Linked DNA regions of Homo sapiens: region 1 is linked to region 2. Evidence: fine-mapped expression QTL. A gene starts in region 2. The other region holds a variant in brackets. All regions are shown on one strand. Distances are between the middles of the regions.

What was found. PIP is the estimated chance that this variant, and not a neighbour inherited with it, causes the effect.
Region 1: its variant is fine-mapped to the expression of UPP1 in whole blood (INTERVAL, PIP above 0.99).

What each region holds. Positions count from the first base shown.
Region 1 is chr7:48,064,517-48,067,433 of GRCh38, reverse strand. No RefSeq gene overlaps it. Among named protein-coding and RNA genes, the nearest start is that of UPP1, 23 kb to the left of the region's middle. The variant A/C (reference allele first, on the strand shown) is at 1,538.
Region 2 is chr7:48,087,735-48,090,651 of GRCh38, reverse strand. It overlaps UPP1 (uridine phosphorylase 1), which reads right to left and starts at 1,387. Exons shown (of 9, transcript NM_003364.4): 1 at 1,234-1,387; 2 at 288-464. RefSeq lists silencers at 823-1,012, 1,353-1,692 and enhancers at 793-1,322, 1,833-2,042, 1,855-2,384.

The sequences.
Region 1 (2,917 bases), 23 kb after region 2:
GATTAATTTAGCCAGCCTTGCATTCTTAGGATACATCCCACTTGGTCATGACATTTAATTCTTTTAATATGCTAGTGGATTCAGTTTGACAGTATTTTGTTAAATATTTTTGCATCTATATTCATAAGGAATATTGGATAGTAATTTTCTTTTTTTGCAATGTCCTTTATCTGACTTTGGGATCAAAGTAATGCTGGCCTCATGAGTTAGGAAGTATTCCTTCCTTTACGATTTTTAGAAGAGCTGGAGAAAGATTGTTGTTCATAACTGGTAATTAGTGAAAACTACTTCCATTATTGGGAGGTTTTTGATTACTGGGTCAGTATCTTTAATTTTTATAGATCTGTTCATATTTTCTTATTTCTTCTTGAGTCACTTTTTGTAATATGAGTGTTCTAAGAATTTGTCCATTCATCTTGGTTATCTAATTCTATTGGAGTACAGTTGTTCATAGTGTTATAATCCTTTTTAATTTCTTTAATGTTGGTAGCAATGTCTTTACTTTTATTTCTTTTTTTGGTAATATGAGTTTTCTCTCTTTCTTTCTTCATCATTCTAGCTAACAGTTTGTCAGTTTTGTTAATCTGTTCACAGAACCAACTTTGGTTTCATTGAGTGTGTATTTTTTCCTATTCTCTGTTTTGTTGACTTCTGCTTTAATCTTGATCATTCCCTTCCTTCTGCTAACTTTGGGTTCAGTTTGTTCTTATTATAGTTCCTCAAAATGTAAAGATAGGTTACAGATTTGAGATCTTTATTCTTTTTTCATGTATTTGTTTACATTAAAAAAGTACAACATATAAAAACTTTAAAAAAACTTATGGGATGCAGTGATAGCAGTGGTCAGGAATTATAAATTTCTAAACTTATAATGAAAATTTCTAAATTGTCTAAATTTATAATTTCTGACCATTGCTTTCACTGCATCCCATAAGTGTTTTTTTGGTTTTTGTTTTTGTTTTCTGTTTTTTTGAGACGGAGTCTCATTCTGTCGCCCAGGTTGGAGTGCAGTGGTGCAATCTCGGCTCACTGCAACCTCCGCCTCCTGGGTTCAAGCGATTCTCTTGCCTCAGCCTCTGCAGTAGTTGGTATTACAGGCATGCACTGCCCTGCCCAGCTGATTTTTGTATTCTTAGTAGGGATTTTACCATGTTGGCCAGGCTCGCCTTGAACTCCTGATCTCAGGTGATCCACCCACTTCGGCTTCCCAAAGTGCTGGGATTAAGGCGTGAGCCACTGAGCCTGGCCTCCATAAGTTTTTATATACTGTGCTTTTGTTTCATTCATCTCAAACTATTTCCTAATTTCCCTGTGATGTCTTCTTTGACCAACTGGTCACTTACATATGTGTTGTTTAATTTCCACATATTTGTGAAATTTCCAGTTTTCCTGTTATTAATTTCTGGTTTCAGTCCATTGTGGCTGGAGAAGATACGCTGTATGATGTCCATCTTACTAGATTTCTTGAGGCTTATTTTGTTGCCTAATGTATGCTCTGTCTTAAAGAATGTTCCATGTACACATGAGAAGAATTTGC[A/C]TTCTGCTGTCGTTGGGTGTAGTGCTCTGTATATATGTGTTAGGTCTAGTTCTCATAGGTCCTTACTAGGAGAATTTTTATTATATTTATTTTTAGAAATTTTGTAATTTAGGTTAGTACTTTCTCTTTCATCAAGGGCATTAAATATAAGTTGTGCAGGTTTTCAAAAATTTCCTGGTGGGAATTTTTTTAAGTTTATTGATTTTGTGATTAATTTCCAGGTTTATTGAGCTGTGGTCAGAGTAGTATTTGCACATTTCTACATTATTGTGTTCCAGTATAACAACTATTTATGTGAATATTCTGTGCATGCATTTGAAGGTATACATTCTATTATCGCATCTTAACTTTTGATATATATCCGTACGACCTATCATATTGATTACACTGCTTAGGCCTTCTATAACCTTTGTTATCTTTTTCTGGTTGATCTGAATTGCACTGAGAGTGATCTGTTAAAGTATCCTATTAGTAGTTGACTCCTTGCATTTCCTGTAGTTCCTGCCTCATAAAAGTGGTCTCTGTTATACTCGATACTTAGATATTCATAACTGTACTGTCTTTCCCATGACTTCTGGCTTTTAGTATTAAAAAGTTCTTTATTTGTCTCATGTAATGTTTATTGCTTGAATTTTACTTTGTATGACATAAATATTGCTACCTGTGTTTTCTATTATTTCTGTTTTCCTGGTATGCCTTTGCTCATCATTTCATTTTTAGCCTTTCTGAATCCTTTGTTTCAGATGTGTCTCATGTCTCCAGCATATGACATTTGTGTCTTGCTTTGTAAACCAAAATGAAAATCTTTTAACAGATGAGTTAAGCTCATTTGCATTTATTGATATGACTTACAGGTGTAGTCTTAATTCAGTCACATTATTGTAATTATTATGAGTATTATATTTACTATTTTTCTTTCTCTGTAATGTTTTGTTTTTATTTTTTTAACTTATGTCTTTCTTAGTGCCCTTATTTCTGTTTTCTTATTTAATTTTTTACTATCTGTTTTGTCAGTTTCTAATGGTATTCTTTGAGTACTGTGTATGACCTATCCACCAAAGGGTTTATTTTAGATTTATCTTTTCCTTTTCTAAAATTTTAGTTATGTTATTTCTAGTTTGTCAGAACATAGAACATTTATATATTACTCTTTCATGTTTTCCCCACTTTTATTTTAGTTTCAGGTCCACAATTAACTATATTAAGTGCTCATCAGTGGTCCTTTTGCTGAATTTTCTTCAGTGATTTTTAGCTGAGTCAGTCTCATCCTCTAGCTGGTGCTTCAGAAAAGGCTCATTCTTACAAGTTTGAAACTGTTCTTCTATAGCCTTGACACTTGAGGGACAGTTTGGCTTGGTTCATATATTCTTTCATTGAGTT
Region 2 (2,917 bases):
GTAAGACATTCTTTCTATTCAAGGAAGTCACAAAGTTTTTTAAAGACCCGCGGTTACAGCCAATGAATGGAACCAATGGTCTTTTTAACCAGAAGACCCCAGGAAGGCAGAAAATGAGCCAAAGAAAGGCCAGGCAGGGGACAGTGGGGAAAGGAAACAGGGATGGAGAAGCAGAGAGGGAAGTGCAGAGACAGGTCACCCAGGCGCCTGGAAACTGCCTCTATGGCCTTCACGGGAAACGGCCTCTTTCTACTCCGGATCCCAGACTGTGTTTCTTTGAAACTGACCGTCAGAGGAGAGCGGCTGGAGGCGGACAGACGTCTGCAGTGGGAGGCGCTCCAGGCGTTCCAGGCAGTGTCCTGCCGGCGAGTCACCCGCGACCGCGAGTCACCTCACCAAGCCCTGAATTGGGACAGGAGACGAGACGTGTCGACGAGCTGCGGAGTTCCTCGCTTCTCTGGGCCCTGCCAGGTCCAAGAACAGGTTGCCATATAAAAGAATCGTGAAGGGACCCCCTTCCCCATGCAAATTATGTCATATAACGCATATGCCTGTGAAGTTTCTCTGCGGAGCTGCCAGATAACTCGATGACAATATTTTATGCGGTAACATTTTGTTAAATGTTGACTCGATGGCCACTTGACGCCATCTGAACTCTGAAAGCTCGCGTAACAATCATCCTCCAAATGAAATTTTACCCCCTTCTCCCTTTAAAAGGCGGTGGGGACAAAACATCACTTCGTCACTTAAGTCACCATCTCCTTCCTCTTATCTGGGGCTCCCAGCATAGTTCTAGGGGTTCCCGCACTCCCCGCCCGGGTTTGGGCTGCGAGAAGCGCCCGCCTGCGCCCTGCGGGACCTGACCCTGCCGGCTCTGGCTTCACCCTCGCTGCGCCTCGGCCCGGTGGGCTCCCCGCCCAGAGCCCCGCGCGCTCCGTCGCCGGGACGTGGGAGAGGTAGGCACGGGGTGGACCCGAGGAAGCACATCCCGCCCGCGCGCTTCCCCCACGCCCACCTCGCTCCGCACACACCAGCCCCAGAACCTCCCGGCCGCGCGCCCGCCTCCCCGCGCAGCCGCGCCGGGCCGCTCTCTGCTCCTCTGCAGCTCACAGCCAAGGTGCACCAGAGCCTCCGTCACCGCCCCTACAGGTAAATGGGCACGTGGCCAAGGCAGGGGACGGGCTAGACCCCTGGGAAGAGAGAACGGCGGGAGCCGGGCCGCGGGCGACTCACCACTCGGCCTGCGCAGAGAGCCGCTACACCCGCGGCGCCATCCTCGCACTGCGACACCGGCGACAAACGCAATGCTCCAGGGCCGGACGAAGGGACGGCTCTCGGGAGGCTCGCAGACGGCGGGGCGCGGGTCTGTGCGCCGGAGCACTCGAATGAGGGAACCACCTGCGAGGTGAATCTCATATGGAGTCTGCGAGCGGCCCCGCCCTGCCCGGGGGTTACCGCTAGGCTCGGGCCCCGCCTGCCCTGGGCCGGCGAACTCAGCTGACCGCATCCTGGGCCATCCCGCAGACAAGCCCCGCCCGCCCCCACCTTCCTCTGCCCCTCTGGCCCCGCCTCCCCCGCCTTCCTCCTCTCCACCCTCCCGCGAAGGTCCCGGGAGGCTCAGCCCGCAATTGCTTCTCGCCTCTGCAGAGCAGCTGGGCAATTGTAAAGAACCAGCAGCCAGTTCTGTTACTCATTAAACAGCCCCTACTACAGAGGAAATCTTCTTACCCACGTGGTCCTAACCTGGGGCGGAGGAAACCGGGCTAGAAGCGGCTCTAGGACTAACCCAAGGTCACGCCGCCAGGCAGGATCCCCGGTCTGTCTGTCTGGCGGTGGCCCCGCGGCTGGGGCCAGCGGAGAGAAATGACAGCGTGGAACCAGCCCTGGCCCGGTGGTCGGGAATGTGGAGCTGGCACTGTCACTGTGTGTACCCTGGATCTCTCTGGACGGCCTCGGCTTCCCCCCTGGGGAGTTTCTCTGGGACCTTCCTGATCCTGGGAGTTCCCGCTTGCTGGGGCAAAGCCAGGAGCTCGCCCGAGGAGGGGAAGTGACTCATTCACTTCGAGTCGCAGCTAAGTGGCCGAACTGCCTCAAACCGGCGCTGCACTCTGACCCCCAGGGGCCGGACCTGCCTGCCCCCGGCCGGTGCCCACTCTCCGTCTCAGGCGTCTTTCCTGGTCCTCTCCCTGCTTCCCGAACGCGCACTCTGGTGAGAGCACAGAGCCTGGGAAAGAAGACGACCTAGAGGCCCGGGCAGCCCAGCACCTCTGTTACTTGCTTCCTAAAGGGAACTCCAGTTCCTGAGAAAACATGGGGTTGGGCCGGGAGTGGTGGCTCACGCCTGTAATCCCAGCACTTTGGAAGGCCGAGGCGGATGGATCACCTGAGGTCAGGAGTTCGAGACCAGCCTGCCCAACATGGTGAAACCCCGTCACTACTAAAAATACAAAAAATTAGCTGGACGTGGTGTCGCGTGCCTGTAATCCCAGGTACTAGGCAGGCCGAGGCAGGAGAATTGCTTGAACCCAGCGAAGGATGCAGTGAGCCGAGATCGCGCCATTGCACTCCATACTGGGTGACAAGAGTGAAACACACAAACAAATCAAGGAAGGAATTAAGGGTTTTATTGAAAATGAAAGTACGGCCAGGCGCAGTGGCTCACACCTGTAATCCCAGCACTTTGGGAGGCCGAGGCGGGTGGATTACAAAGTCAGGAGTTCAAGACCAGCCTAACCAAGATGGTGAAACCCCGTCTCTACTAAAAGTAAAAAAAAAAAAAAAACAAAAAAAAAAACCTAGCCGGTCACAGTGGCAGGTGCCTGTAATTCCAGCTACTTGGGAGGCTGAGGCAGGAGAACCACTTGAACCTGGGTGGCAGAGGTTGCAGTGAGCTGAGATCATGCCACTGCATTCCAGC